Linked DNA regions of Homo sapiens: region 1 is linked to region 2. A link means that fine-mapping ties the variant in region 2 to the expression of a gene that starts in the linked region. Tissue or cell type: regulatory T cells. Region 2 holds a variant in brackets; the other region holds the start of a gene. All regions are shown on one strand. Distances are between the middles of the regions.

Region 1 (8,089 bases), 190 kb before region 2:
CTGGTGGCTCAGTCGCCTTTCCCAGACTGCCTCTGCCCTGCCATTCTGAGTTCCGACGGACTGGGTGTGGTGGCTCAAGCCTGTGATCCCAGCACTTTGCGAGGCTGAGGCAGGAAGATCACTTGAGCCCAGGAACTCGAGACCAGCCTGGGCAACACAGCGAGACTGCATCTGTACTAAAAGAAAGAATTAGCACGGTGTGCTGGTGCGTGCCTCTCGTCTCAGCTGTTTGGGTGGTCGAGCCCAGGAGGTCCAGGCTGCAGTGAGCTATGATCGTTCCACTACACTGCAGCCTGGGGGACAGCGTGAGACCGTCTCAAAGAAAAAAAAAAAAGTTCCGGCTGGGTGCAGTGGCTGTAATCCCAGCACCTTGGGAGGCCAAGGCAGGCATATCACCTGAGGTCAGGAGCTCTAGACCAGGCTGGCCAACATGGTGAAACCCAATCTCTACTAAAAACACAAAAAGTAGCCAGGTGTGGTGGCGGGCGCCTGTAATCCCAGCTACTCGAGAGGCTGAGGCAGGAGAATTGCTTGAACCCAGGAGGCAGAGGTTGCAGTGAGCCCAGACCGCACCACTGCACTCCAGCCTGGGCAACAAGAACGAAACTCTATCTCAAAACAAAAACAAAAAACAAAAACAGTTCCAATGACCACGATCACCAGCATCGGGACAGCTAACCAGGTGCCTGGATGCAGGGGTCATGGAGCTGGAATTCAGTGCATGTACCGGGACAATATAAGCATCAGTAGCGTAATATGTTACACTGTTAAAGGATGGTAAGCGCTGCTATGGCAAAGAGGAAACAGGAGTGAGGAGGGATGGGTACAGGTCACCATCAAGGCAGGCCTCTTTGAAGAGAGTTGGAAGAAGGGAGCAGTGTGTATTATTGGGAGAGGAATCCAGGCAGAGGAAACAGCCAGTGCAAAAGTTCTCAGGTGGGACAAGGAGCCCAGGAAGGGCTCCGGGAAGGAGGGGTCAGGGGCCAGTAAGGCTAGAGGGAGTTAGCAGAGGAGAGGGTGGAAGGAGACGAGGGCAGATTCTACAGGGCCTTGTGGCTGAGTGAGGACTGGACCTTTTTCCTGGGTGAGGTGGAAGCCATGGAGGATTCTGAGCCAAGGAGGGAGGGAACCGACTCAGGTGCTCATGGGCACCCTCTGGCTTCTGTGAGAGGACCAGGTGGGATCCAGGAGACAAGGGAGAAGGTGGCTGCACTGGTCCCGGTGGGAAATGATGTGGGTGGGACCAGGTAGGGGCCAAGAAGATGGGAGGCGGGTGGATTCTGGATTGATTCTAAGGGCAAAATAGGGGCGAGCACAGTGGCTCATGCCTGTAATCCCAGCACTTTGGGAGGCCGAGGCGGGTAGATCATGAGGTCAGGAGTTCGAGACCAGCCTGGCCAACATAGTGAAACCCCATCTCTACTAAAATTACAAAAAAAAAAAAAAAAAAAAAAAAAAATTAGCCCGGTGTGGTGGTGCAGGCCTGTAATCCCAGTTACTCGGGAGGCTGAGGGAGGAAAATCGCTTGAACCCAGGAGGCAGAGGTTGCACCTAAGCCAAGATCACTCAACTGCACTCCAGCCTGGGCGACAGAGCGAGACTCCATCTCAAAAAAACAAAACAAAACAAATGGGATGAGACCGGGATGTGAGAGAAAGGAGGGATTCAAGGATGACCTATGGCATCTGGAAGGAAGTGATCACAGGGGGAGGAGGGCAGAATGGGAAGGGAGGATCAGGAATTTGGTTTTGGACATGCTGAGTGCAAGGTGACCATGAGATTCCCCACTCCACGGAGGTAAGCGGGCCAGTGGGTACCCAGTTCTGAGAAAACCGACACTCTGGGGTGACGAAACAATTTGCTCAAGATCACAGGGCTGTTTACTGTGGAGTACAATTCAAACCCAGGTTTGACTCCCACCAAAACCAGTTTTAAATCTCCTTCCAACTTCTTTACAAGCTCAACCTTACCCATCTACATATAAATGTTGCACTTAAAAACAACCATAGGGTGGCTCACGCCTGTAATCCCAGCATTTTGGGAGGCAGAGGCGGGAGGATGCCTTGAGGCCAGGAGTTCAAGACCAGCCCGAGCAGCATAGTGAAACCTGTCTCTACCAAAAATACAAAAAAAATAAAATTAGCCGCGTATTGGCGAGCACCTGCAATTCTACCTACTCGAGAGGCTGAGACGGAAAGATTGCCTAAGTCCAGGAGGCTGAGGCTGCAGTGAGCTATAATGGGGCCACTGCACTCCAGCCTGGGCAACAGTGAGACCCTGACTCAAAAAAAAATGACGATAACCAACGCACCCTCACACTTCTTTGAGCCCTCTGCTGTTCTAGGTTTACAAAGCTGGGCTTTCAATTCCCTTCCCATGTCACCTCGCTGTCTTCCTGAGTTCAATTAAAGAAAACAGTAACAGCAAGAGGCTGACGTTATTGGAACCCTTTTTGGGCCGCAGGTCTTGCTTCTACGAGGCCCTTTTGAAGTGGTAAGTGGTGTTCCTGCACCCCTTGCACAAGGAAGAAAAGGGAGGCCCACAGAGCTGGGAGTCCTCCAGGCCTCATCCCTTGCCCTTTGCCGATCCCTGTGCTCCTTCCCTCGCCGGCCTCCAGATTTCATCTCTCGTCCCTAGCACGTCCCCCAGCCCCTATCCCTCGCCAGCTTCCACCTCTTACCCCTCTCTGCGCCCCGGGCTCCATCCTTCGCTCCTAACGCGGCCCCTGGCTCTATCCCCTCGCTCCTAGCTCGTCCCCAGGATCCACCCTCTCCCCTCACTGATCCCCGGGCTCCACCCATCCCCCCTCGCCGTCCTCCGGGTTCCACCCCTCGCTACTCGCCGCCCTCCGGGCTCCATCTCTCGCCCCCGCACACCTTCTTGAGCTTTTGCTGCTGCACGACGCGCGCCTTCTTGGGAGCGATAACACGACCTGGGGAAAGATGTGCTCACGTGAGGCCGGGAAGCCGGGGGTCCACCTCGCCCCCAAGTCCCCGGGCCGCTCCTTACCGCCTTTTCTTGGGCCCCGATTCTTTTCAGAGGCTGCCGCTGCCGTCTTACTCTTTGCGGGTTTGTGCGCCTGAAACTTGCGCTGCCCCTGCGCCATGGTCCGGCACGCAGCGGAAGAGGCGGGACTGTGAGCAGTCGTAGCCGGAAGGCACAGGGAACCATGGGATACAGCGGGGCGGAAAAACGCAAGAACTCACGGGATACAACGTGGCACAGAGTTAAAGAGACAGCATCCCACAAGGGTAGTGTAGTGGATCACAGTTGGAGTTTTCAAACATTACGAACAAAACGGTGACAATGATAAGCTAACGTTTATTGAGAGCTTATGTGTTTTAGAAAACTTACAACGTTTTATGATCTTTACACATAAAAACTCAGACTAGGTTAGGGTGTGGCACTCACCTCTGGTACAGAATTTAAGAAGGTTCAAAAACTTTGGTAATAGTAAACAATATTTTCAAGACTTAAAAAATATTTTAATATCCAAAATAATCAAATTGTTAAACTACATCCTGCAGACCGGCAGCATAATTTTGTAAATAAAGTTTTAGTGGAACCAGGGTGTTGAGGTCAGTAAGCTCAAGGCACAAGTGCGGGGTTCTAGCCTCTTCAAAATTTTATTTAGGCCGGGCACGGTGGCTCACGCTTGTAATCCCAGCACTTTCGGAGGCCGCGGGGCGCGGATCACCCGAGGTCAGGAGTTGGAGACCAGCCACGACTAACATGGTGTCTCCAATAAAAATACAAAAATTAGCCAGGCATAGTGCCAGGCTCCTGTAATCCCAGCTACTCGGGAGGCTGAGGCAGGAGAGTCGCTTGAACCCAGAAGGCGGAGGTTGCAGTGAGCTGAGATGGCACCACTGTACTCCAGCCTGGGCGACAGAGCGAGACCCCGTCTCAAACAAATACTTGTTTTGTTCATCATGGATTTTTTTTTTTTTTTAAAGAGATGGGGTCTCACTCTGTTGCTTAGGGTGAAGTGCAGTAGTGCAATCAAAGCACACTGCATCCTTGAACTCCTGGGCTCAAGCCATCCTCCCACTTCAGCCTGAGTAGCTGGGGCTAGAGGTGTGAGTTCCATGCCCAGCTCATTGTTTTTAAATTTTTGTTTGTAGAGACAAGCTCTTCCTATGTTACCCAAACTGGTCTCAAACACCTGGGCTCAAGGGATCCTCCCAAAGTGCTGGAATTACAGGCATGAGCCACCAAGCCTGGCCTCATCATGGATTTTTGCATTAATTTTGATTTTTAAAAAATACTGCTGTAAGGTCAGGCACAGTGGCTCATGCCTGTAGTCCCAGCACTTTGGGAGGCTGAGGCAGGGGGATCATTTGAGTCAGGAGTTCGAGACCAGCCTGGCCAACATGGTGAAATCATGTCTCTACTAAAAATAGAAAAATTAGCTGGGCATGGTGGCGCATGCCTGTAATCCCAGCTACTCAGGAGGCTGTGGCAGGAGAATCGCTTGAACCGGGGAGGCACAGGTTTCAGTGAGCTGAGATCTCGCCTCTACATTCCAGCCTGGGTAACGAGTGATACTTGATCTCAAAAAAAAAAAACCCAAAACAAAATATTGCTTTAAAATATTTTTTATCTTGGTTGCTGAGCTTTTTTGGTGTCCTCTTAAAATTCTGCCCTGGAGATGTCACCCTAGCTCCAGCCCTGACCTTAAGAGGGAGGTACTAGTATTATCCACATTTATTTTTTATTTTTTTAATTAAATAATTAATTAATTATATTTATTTTTGAGACGGAGTCTCGCTCTGTTGCCCAGGCTGGAGTGCAGTGGCGCTATCTCGGCTCACTGCAAGCTCTGCCTCCCAGTTTCACGCCATTCTCCTGCCTCAGCCTCCCAAGTAGCTGGGACTGCAGGTGCCCACCACCACACCCGGCTAATTTTTTGTATTTTTAGTAGAGATGGGGTTTCACCATGTTAGCCAGGATGGTCTCAATCTCCTGATCTTGTGATCCACCTGCCTCGGCCTCCCAAAGTGCTGGGATTACAGGTGTGAGCCACTGCGCCCGGCCTGTTATCCACATTTTATAAATGAGGAAACCAAGGCACAGAGAGGTGAAGTGACTTGCCCAAGATCATACAGTGGGAAAAGTGGCGGAGTCAGGATTTGAATCTGGGCAGCCTGGCTCTAGGTGCTGGGCTCTAGATGGAAGGCCCTGTCTGAGCTCCCTGCACTAGGAACAAGTGTGGTCAGGGGCTGGACGGTCAGCTTTTGGGTAGCCATTCAAGAAATGTATTGAAAAACCTAGAGAGGCAGGCTAGGGAGAGCTGAGTTGGTTACATCTGGGGTCCATCTAGGGTTCCATCCCTGGAAGAGATGGTGGTGGTTAGGGCTGTCCGGAGCTCCTCAGGGGCAAAGACCCCCAGTTCTGTGATGATGCCACCAGTGATGAGGTCGTGGGGGGTGACATCGAAGGCAGGATTCCAAACTCCAATCCCTGCAGGGGAGAGAGGGGAGGCAAGGAGGCAAGAATTTGCTTCTGTGAAAGTTCTCAGGTTGTAGTCATCTGTTTCTACCACAGTGGTTCTTGGAGTTGGGGAGTCCTTGAGAACCTGAGGATTCTCACCCCAAAAGTACATGCAGGCATGGACATTGTACTCAATAGTAAGTTTAGACTCGCCACTGCCCCTAGAATGTCAGTCCCCAAGAAAAATTCAAAGTCCTATACACATCTATGCCACTTATTTTTTTATTTTTTGTGAGATGTAGTTTTGCTCTTGTTGCCCAGGCTGGAGTGCAATGGCACGATCTTGGTTCACTGCAACCTCCACCTCCCAGGTTTCAAGCAATTCTCCTGCCTCAGCCTCCCGAGTAGCTGGGATTACAGGCATGCACCACCATGCCCAGCCAGTATTTTTAGTAGAGACGAGGTTTTTCCATGTTGGTCAGGCTGGTCTCAAACTCCCGACCTCAGGTGATCTGCCCGCCTCGGCCTCCCAAAGTGCTGGGATTACAGGCGTGAGCCACCGCACCTGGCCCATCCCACTTATTTTTTTAGTTTTATTTTTAATTATTATTATTATTTTTGACACAGAGTCTCGTTGTGTCACCCAGGCTGTAGTACAGTGGTGCGATCTTGGCTCAGTGTAACCTCTGCCTCTTGGATTCAAACGATTCTCCTGCTGCAGCCTCCTGAGCAGCTGGGACCACAGATGTGCACCATCATGTCTAGCTGTTTTTTTGTTTTTTTGAGATGGAGTTTTGCTCTTGTCACCTAGGCTGGAGTGCAGTGACATGATCTCAACTCACTGCAACCTGTGCCTCCCAGGTTCAAGCGATTCTCCTGCCTCAGCCTCCCAAGTAGTTGGGATTACAGGCGCCTGCCACCTCGCCCAGCTAACGTTTTTTTTTTTTGTATTTTTAGTAGAGACGGGGTTTCACCACATTGGCCAGGCTGGTCTCGAACCCCTGACCTCAGGTGATCCGCCCGCCTCAGCCTCCCAAAGTGCTGGGGTTACAATCATGAACCACCACACCTGGCAAAACAATTTTTTTAGAGATTGTGGTCTGGCAATGTTGCCCAGGCTGGTCTTGAACTCCTGAGCTCAAGTGATCCTCCCACCTCAGCCTCCCAAAATACTGGGATTTCAGGTGTGAGCCATTTTACCTGGCCCCATAATGCTAATATTGGTTCATGCTAATATTTCATGAACTGTTTTTTCTTTTTTTTCTTTGAGATGGAGTTTCACTCTTGTTGCCCAGGCTGGAGTGCTGTGGCGCTATCTTGGCTCATTGCAACCTCCGCCTCCCGGGTTCAAGCAATTCTCCTGCCTCAGCCTCCTGAGTAGCTGGGGTTACAGGCATGTGCCACCACGCCCGGCTAATTTTGTATTTTTAGTAGAGGCAGGGTTTCTCCATGTTGGTCAGGCTGGTCTTGAACTCCCGACCTCAGGTGATCCGCCCGCCTCGGCTTCCCAAAGTGCTGGGATTACAGGCGTGAGCCACAGCGCTCGGCCTTTTTTTTTATTTTTGAGATGGAGTTTCGCTCTGTCACCCAGACTGGAGTGCAGTGGTGCAGTCTCAACTTACTGCAACCTCTGCGTCCTAGGTTCAAGCAATTCTCATGCCTCAGCTTCCCAAGTAGATGGGACTACAGGCATGTGCCACCACGCCTGGCTAATTTTTATATTTTTTTAGTAGAGACGTGGTTTCGCTCTGTTGGCTAGGCTGGTCTGGAACGCCTGACCTCAAGTGATCCGCCCACCTCCGCCTCCCAAAGTGTTGGGATTATAGGCGTGAGCCACGGCATCTGAGTGCATGAACTATTTAAAGGGCCAGTCATTGATCTAAATGTCCTGTGGGTTAATTCACTGACCGCCCTTGGGTTTATGCAGCAGGTTCTAGCCATAGCCCATTTTACAGATAGGACCAGTGAGGATCTTAGGGAATTAGAGAATTTAGGGAACTTGCTAACGGTTGCACAGCCAGGAAGTATAGGCAGCTAAGAAAAGTCTTGCAGCTAGGCATGGGAGCTCACACCTGTAATCTCAGTGCTTTGGGAGGCTGAGGCAGGAGGATCGCTTGAGGCCAGGAGTTTGAGACCAGCCTGGGGAACATAGCGAGACCCTATCTCTATGAAAATAAACAAATAAAAATAAGTGTAGAAATATCTTGCTTTTTCTTTTCTTTTTTTTTTTTGAGACAGAATCTCACTCTGTTGCCCAGGCTGGAGTGCAATGGTGTAATCTCAGCTCACCACAACCTCCGCCTCTCAGGTTCAAGTGATTCTCCTCCCTCAGCCTCCTGAGTAGTTGGGACTACAGGCGGGTGCCACCATGTCCGGCTAATTTTTGTATTTTTAGTAGAGACGGGGTTTCACTATGTTGACCAGGCTGGTCTCGAACTCCTGACCTTGTGATCTGCCCGCCTCGGCCTCCCAAAGTGCTGGGATTACAGGTGTGAGCCACCTCGCCTGGCCGTCTTGGTTTTTCTTTACAAACACGTGGCCAGCCAGATATTCTTATTTCCTCTTAAGAAAACCTAAGTGGAGAATAGCAAGACAGTTACTCAAGATCATTCATATAACCGGTTAGTTGTAAATTCCAACATTGGATCTGACCTCC
Region 2 (8,103 bases):
CACAGCCTCTCTGAGCACTGAAGGAAGATAACAACAGTTCCTAGTGCAGAAAGTCTGGGAGAGAGCACTGACAAGGCCAGGTTCAAATAACAGTGTCTTGAAGGATAAGTCACTTTCTTTTTTTTTCCTTCTGTGGTCTGGGCACCGCCTGGTCAATATTTATGTGTAGTGCCTCCATCTGTATGCTAGGTCAAGGGCTTCTGAATAAGGAGACTGTGGAGCTTATTGGCTCTGGAGCTAGTCTGGCTGGATTCACACCCTGGTTCTAACTATTTGCTGTGTGACCTTGGACAAGTGACTTCACCTCTCTGAGCCTCTGTTTCCTTGCCTGCAAAATGCAGGAAAAAAATAGCAGTCACTTCATAGGGTCATTACAAGAATTAAGCATTTGAAAAATGCTTAGGACAGTGCATCTCACATTATAAGCAGGAATGGCCAGTTAAATAATAATAATAATAATAATTATTATTATTATTTTGAAAGGAGTCTCACTCTATTGCCCAGGCTGGAGTGCAGCGATGCGATCCTGGCTCACTGCAGCCTCCACTCCTGGGTTCAAGCCATTCTCCTGCCTCAGCCTCCAGAGTAGCTAGGATTACAGGCATCCACCACTATGTCTGGCTAATTTTTGTATTTTTAGTAGAGACAGGGTTTCACCATATTGGCCAGGTTGGTCTCAAACTCCTGACCTCAAGCAATCTGCCTACCTTTGGCCCCCCAAAGTGCTGAGATTACAGGCATGAGCCACTGCACCTGGTTAGGCCTGTTAAATTAAGTGAAATGAACAAATTCCCACCCATACTCCGAGGTGTGACCTCCAAAAGGGCATGGACTTTATCTTATTGGTTATGTTTCACCAGAGCCTAGCATATAGCAGGTGGTTAGTAAAGGCTGGGTGAAAGCAAGATATGAGGTTGGAATGTGTTTGTGGCTGAGAGATGAAAATCTGACCTCTAAATCTAGGATTTGCAGACTTCTGTAAAGAACCAGATAGTGGGCTGTATCTGGCCTGCAGGACGTTGACTGCTAACTTCTGCTATAAATCACAGTGAGAGGTTAATGGGAACTAAGAGAGGATGTTTCAGATGGTCCTTTCTGGAGAGATGGTGATATCAAACGCCCTTAAGTCTCAAATAGGAAGGCCTATTTATTTTTCTTATTAACATTTATGAAGCACGTTATCCTGTCCACATGCCAATCAGTGCCATAGGCACTCATACTCTCTTTTTTATTTTTAGGACAATCTTGGAAAATCATATCTTTAATTACTCCTCCCTCCTTTTAATTTAATTTTTATTTTTTTATTTGTGCAAATATATAGGATATATGTGCAAATTCCTTCTTCTTCTCTTTTTTTCTTTAAATAGATAGGGGGCCGGGCGTGGTGGCTCACACCTGTAATCCCAGCACTTTGGGAGGCCGAGGCAGGTGGATAACTTGAGGTCAGGAGTTTGAGACCAGACCAGCCAACATGGTGAAACCCCATCTCTACTAAAAACAACAAAAAAATTAGCTGGGCATGGTGGTGCACACCTGTAATCCCAGCTACTCGGGAGGCTACAGCAGGAGAATCCCTTGAACCCAGGAGGCAGAGGTTGCAGTGAGTCAAGACTGCACCACTGCACTCCAGCCTGGGCAACAGAGCGAGACTCTGTCTCAAAAAAAAAAAAAACCAAATAAATAAAGAGACAGGGTCTCGCTCTGTTGCCCAGGCTGGAGTGCAGTGGTGCAATCATAGCTCACTGCAGCCTTGAACTCCTGGGCTCGGGTGATCCTCCTGCCTCAGCCTTCTGAGTAGCTGAGACTACAGGTGGACACCACCACACTAGCTAATTAAATTTTTTTTTGTGGAGACAGGGGTCTTTCTATGTTGTCCAGGCTGGCCTCAAACTCCTGGCCTTTAGCAATCCTCCTGCCTCAGCCTCCTAAGTAGCTGGGATTATAGGAATGAGCCACAGTGTCTGGCTCACCTCTTCCCTTTTTTAAATTAGGAAACTAGGGCCCAGAATGGTTAAAAAAAACTTTCTCAAATTCATACAAGTTTAACTGGGTCCATTTTCTTTGTTTCTTTGTTTCTTTTTTTTTTGAGACAGATTCTCACTGTATCCCCCAGGCTGAAGTGTAGTGGTGCACTTCTCGGCTCACTGCAACCTCTGGGTTCAAGTGATTCCCATGCCTCAGCCTCCTGAGTAGCTGGGATTACAGGCACCTGCCCACCACACCTGGCTAATTTTTTAATTTTTATTTTTTAGTAGAGGTGCGGTTTCACCATGTTGGCCAGGCTGGTCTCAAACTCCTGACTTCAGGTGATCTGCCTGCCTCGGCATCCCAAAGTGCTGAGATTACAGGTGTGAGCCACTGCACCTGGCCGAACTGGGTCCATTTTCAAAGCTCTGGCTTCTTATGTCTGGACCAGAGAACAGCTGAGGCCTTGTCTCAAAGCTGCCATTTAAATGTTCACGGCTGAGTGCACAGGCCCTAGAAGCAAGCTTCGGAACACAGGGCAGCACCCAAGGCACAATATGTAAGGCTTTTCAGTAGACACGCATGACTACAATCCATCACAAAGTGGCACGGAGTCCGTGCATTGGTCCTGCGGGTGGGCCTGCGGGAACATTCTGGAACTCTTCAGTGCTTGCCTTAGAATGAGGATGTCCCCATTTAAAAAGGTTCGCTTGGCGGGGCACGGTGGCTCACGCCTGTAATCCCAACACTTTGGGAGGCCAAGGTGGCAGGATCACATGGTCAGGAGATTGAGACCATCCTGGCTAACACAGTGAAACCCTTTCTCTACTAAAAATACAAAAAATTGGCCGGGCGTGGTGGCGGGCACCTGTGATCCCAGCTACTCGGGAGGCTGAGGCAGGAGAATTGCTTGAACCTAGGAGGTGGAGATTGCAGTGAGCCGAGATCGTGCCATTGCACCCCAGCCTGGGCAACAGAGCGAGAAAAAAAAAAAAAAGAGGCTCCCTAAAGCAGGAGCAGGTGCAGCCCGTTGGAGAGCTCCTTGGGCTTCTCAATTGCAGAGGGTAGGACTCATTTTCACCCATTTTCTTTCCCCCTTTGGTGGGACCTCTCAGGCGTACCTTAAATGTTCCCTTGGTTGGCTCCCACAAGCACAGCCAATTTTCCAGAGTCTGGTTCAGTCTCCTGAGATCTGTGTCCAAAATCTCCAGCCCATGGCCAGGCACAGTGGCTCATGCCTGTAATCTCAGCACTTTGGGAGGCCGAGGTGGGAGGACTGCTTGAGGCCAGGAGTTTGAGACCAGCCTGGGCAACATAGTGAGACCCCCATCTGTACAGAAAAAAA[GA/A]AAAAAAAAATTAGCCAGGCGTGGTGGTGCGTGCCTGTGGTCCTAGCTACTCGGGAGGCTAAGGTGGGAAGGTGGGAGGATCGCTTGAGCCTGTGAGTTCAAGGCTGCAGTGAGCTGTGATCATAGCACTGCACTCCAGCCTGCGTGACAGAGTGAGATCCCCATCTCAAAACAAAAACAAAAAACAAAGTCTCCAGCCCCAGATTAGCCTGTGTGCTGGACTTGGAGACCCCAGCATGTTCATGGCACAGTGGAGTTTTGGAGGGTTTTCATTGACCTTGCGTCCATGTGGCATGGCGGTCTTGCAAGAGAAACAGGTAGTGGATCTTTCATTCTGCCAGCTCTCTGGTCCTTGAGCACACATCAGCCCCCCCCTTCGGGCTTGTGAAAACACAGATATTTCTGGGTTCACCTTGGGGTTGCTGATTCAGTAGGTCCCAGCAGAGCCTGAGACTCTGCATTTCTCCAAGCTCCTAGGTGATGCTGCTGCTGCTGGTTTGTGGACCGCATTTTAAGAAGCATGGCTTTACATCAGTGGTTCCCAACCTTGGCTGCACAATCATCTGGGCTGTTTTAAAAATCATGATGTCCAGGCCCTACTCCATTAAATCCAACTCTGGATGTAGGGTCCTGGCATTAGCACTTTTCAAGTTACCTGGTAGGCTGGGCATGGTAGCTCATGCCTGCAATCCCAGTGCTTTTGGGAGGCCTGGCTCCTGGCTTTAGGCCAGGAGTTTGAGACCAGCCTGGGCAATATAGCAAGATCCCATCTCTACGAAAAATTTTGTTTAAAATTTAGCCAGGCATGGTGGCATGCACCTGTAGTCCCAGCTACTCGGGAGGTTGAGGCAAGAGGATTGCTTGAGCCCAGGAGGTCAAGACTGCAGTGAATTATGATCATGCCACTGCCCTTCAGCCTGGGCAACAGAGCAAGACTCTGCTGCTATACAAATAAAATAAAAATAAAGTTCCCAGGCGATTCTAGCCAGTGTGCGAGTCATCACGTTCCACTTTACTTATGATACACTCAGCAGAGGCCCCCAGGTTTATACCAACTTGGAAATTTAAAATCCACTGGGGAATGAAAAAACATGATGGTGTCTAATCCATTTCTAAGCCAAGGCGGAATGATTGCAGTATGATTCACGGCTTGGATTCTTATTCTTTTGGCTTCAATAATCTCCTTTCTGTGTATTCAGGGCAGATATTCAGCTGAGACACATTGGCACAGCTGATTGTTAAAATATTAAAATATTTCCACACCAGTTAGTAAATAGCTGTTGCCTGGAGGCCCCTAGTGAGCTCCCCCACCCACCCAAGTCCCTTCCTGGGTCCTCCCATGCCTCCTGACAATCAGTGCTCTGGGGATAGTGCCTCCTACTGGTAGCTACATATTTTAACCTTCCCTGCAGTGTGTTTGATCTACTTACTCACGTCTTTATCTTTAGTTTTTGTGTCTGAGCACGTGAGTATCTCAAATAGATAAGAAGGTGGGTTTGCAAACTCAGGAGTGTGGTTCTGCTGTAATCTCAACATAATGCAGTCTCTCATTTAGCTGCGTTATGTTGATGGCTGGCAGGGCTGGACAGTCCATGAGGTTTCACTCACATGTTTGCACCAAACATGAGCTTTTTCAGTATATTCTTTCTCTCCATGTGGCTAGCTTGAGCTTCCTTATAGCATGGTGGCTTTGCATAATTGAACATTCAAAAGTCTGACTTTAAAGAAGGGGCGTGTCAAACTTGAAAGCAGAAGCTGCAAGGGAGGCTGCCAGGTTTGAAGGAGCTCAGATATCACCTTGGGAAGCTTGGGATTTATCCCATTTTCATTGACCAGGCTATTGGAGGTCTGTCCACCATTGGCTGGAGTGCAGTGGTGCAATCGTGTATGGCTCATTGCAGCTTGGAACTCCTGGGCTCAAGTAATCCTCCCACCTCAGCCTCCCAAGTAGCTGGGACTACAGGTGCACACCACTATGCCTGGCTAATTATTTTATTTTATTTTTTGAGCGACGGGGTCTCACTATGTTGCCAAGGCTGGTCTTGAACTCCTAGACTCAAGAGATCCTCCCACCTCAGCCTCCTGAGTAGCATCGGAGGTCTTTTGATGGGAGACCATGCACTTCAACACATCATAATGGTGTTTTACAAAGTAATTTCTGAAAAGAGTCCAGGTCAGTGGGAAGTACAGAGTCTGGAGAGAAAAATGCCAGCTCTTTCTACTCTTACGTGACCCTGTGTTTTATTTAACTTTCATGAGTTTTCAGTTGCATCATCTGTAAAACAGGATAAGAATCTGTACCATACACACTCTGCAGGGCTTTTATAAGGATCAAATAAGGTACTTTGAAATCCAGGGTTGCTAAACTCAATTGTCTACAGGGGCCAAGTGGGTAATGGTGACTGGGGCAGCTTCCATGTCAGGGAGACATTAGAGAGTGGTGAGGTCTTTGGCAAACTAGATAGCTCCAGGCTCATCTGAAGGATATAACCATTATTCAATAGAAGCTGATTGCTGTCATGCAGGAATGTAGGCTCAGCTCGGGTAAATCGTCTGAGTTTTTGAGAAAAAGCAAAAATTTCACTTTTATATGTAATCTCCTGACTTGTTCTGAACATATTTTTATCTTAAGATGTGGATAGATCAAGGAAGTAATTTGTGAGCTCTGAGTTTGTAACATCTGCTGTAAACCCTAAAACTCAGTGTAAATACTAGTTATTAATTTTGTCATAGATTTTTAAAACTGGGAGGGGAAGATGAGCAAGAGGGAGGTGTGGAGGGGGGCAATGCCAGTGAGTCAGGAGATAGCTGAACTAGGACAGCAGTGTTGGGAATAAAGGTGGGGAGAGGATCTAAGAAACACTTTAGAAGGAGAATCAATAGGATTCACTTGCTAATTGGCTGGCGTGAAGATTCTTAACATTTTCTGAGCCGTGGAGCTCTCTTCAGTTTGACAAAAGCCAAGGGATCTCTTCTCAGAATTGTGCTTTTTAAGTGCATAATATCAAATGCAGAGGAAATCAATTACATTGAACATTAGTTATAAAAATATTTGAAAGAACAGATTTGTCATACATCACTAATGTGTTTCTTTCATAATGCATAAATAACAAGAGCTAGTAACAGACCTAACAACTTCAAGGTAGTCATGAGAGTAAGTGAGTTTCAAGATATCTGCAATAATTACAATGTGACATAATAAAAATGTGGTTTCTGTTTTTTGGTTGGTTGTTTGTTTTGAGAGAGAGTCACTCTGTTGCCCAGGCTGGAGTGCAGTGATGAGATCACAGCTCACGGCAGCCTCTACCTCCCAGGTGCAGTGGTGAGATCACAGCTCATGGCAGCCTCTACCTCCCAGGTGCAAGTGATCCTCCAACCTCAGCCCCCTGAGTAGGTGGGTCTACAGGTGTGCACCACCATGCCCAGCTAATTTTTGTATTTTTTTGTAGAGATGGGGGTTTCACCACGTTCCCCAGGCCAGTCTCAAACTCCTGAGCTCAAGTGATCCACCTGCCTTGGCCTTCCAAAATGCTGGGATTACAGGCGTGAGCTACTGCCCCCAGCTGAGATGTGGTTTCTGTTGATGACAAAGTCACAGGTGTCATGAACACTGCTAATATTGCTGCAATTTGTTGCCTCCATGCATAATTACAGCTAGAGGCTGTAATGAATATGCGAATTTTCCCAACCAAATTTACAGGCTCCCTGAATTATAAACAAGTTAAGTACCACTTCATCTAGGAAGTGAAAGAACAGGTGAGTTCAAAGGGAAATCTGAGATTTCTAGTTTGGGGAGAGTCAAAGTGGAGTTGCCTAGGAGGCTATAAGAAATTGGGGAACAGAGCAGAAGAGACTAAAAGTGGGTAGAAATAGTGTTTGGGGAACTGTGAGAAATTGAACAGAGTGACTAAGCCTGTAGGCTCAGGAGCCACAGTGCCTGGCTTCAAATCCTGGCCCAACGTCTTACCAGCTTTGTAATCTTAGTGCATTTAACGGCACCCCACTTCTGATACCAAATCCAGATTTCATTGGCTTGTATACCAGTTACTGGACCAACATCTTGTGCCTCAGTTTTTTTCAACTATGAAATGGGGATGATAATTGCATCACCTACCTCTCAGAGAGATTGTTAGCATCAAATTAATTAATACATGCAAATTACTTAGAACAGTGCTTGGCACACAGTAAGTGCTACATAGACATAGTTATAGAAGGGATGGAAGTGGATGAGGTTCATTCATTAATCATTCAACAGAGATTCATCAAGCAGCTTTAAAAATGACTTTAATTGACAAACAACAATTGTATATATTCATGGGCTACAATGTGATATTTCAACCTATGTGTACATTATGGAAAGATTCAATCAAGCTAATTAACATACCCATCACCTCACCAACTTATCACTGAACACTTTGGAGGCAGAGAACAAATCAGACAAGGACTTTACACTCATGGAGTTTAAATTTTATAAGGGAAAACAGATAATATACTAGTAAATAGATAATACAATAATTTGAGGCAGTGAGATTGACAATAACACTGCGATGGGGTAAAACGTGACTGAAACAGGAGAACCTAAGAAAAGGTGGTTAGGGGTGGTTCATCTGGTGAACTGATATTTGAATTGAGTGCTTAATGAAGAGGATGAGCCAGCCATGCAAAGTTCTTGGGAAAGGAAGTTCCAAGCAGAGAGAACAGCAAGTGCAAAGGCCCTGAGGCAGGAATGTGCCTGGTGTGTTTTGAGTATCAGCAAGACAGCTGGTGTTGGTTGGGACAAGGTGAGTGAGGT

The links. PIP is the estimated chance that this variant, and not a neighbour inherited with it, causes the effect.
Region 1: it holds the start of C19orf53, and the variant in region 2 is fine-mapped to the expression of C19orf53 in regulatory T cells (Schmiedel 2018, PIP 0.95).

Annotation. Positions count from the first base shown.
Region 1 is chr19:13,769,495-13,777,583 of GRCh38, reverse strand. It overlaps C19orf53 (chromosome 19 open reading frame 53), which reads right to left and starts at 3,128. Exons shown (of 3, transcript NM_014047.3): 1 at 3,010-3,128; 2 at 2,877-2,932. The coding sequence starts at 3,106. MRI1 (methylthioribose-1-phosphate isomerase 1) reads right to left here. Exons shown (of 6, transcript NM_001031727.4): 6 at 3,302-5,463. The coding sequence ends at 5,303. RefSeq lists enhancers at 2,063-2,591, 2,592-3,121, 3,098-3,297, 3,368-3,437.
Region 2 is chr19:13,576,141-13,584,243 of GRCh38, reverse strand. No RefSeq gene overlaps it. Among named protein-coding and RNA genes, the nearest start is that of CACNA1A, 74 kb to the right of the region's middle. The variant GA/A (reference allele first, on the strand shown) is at 3,311.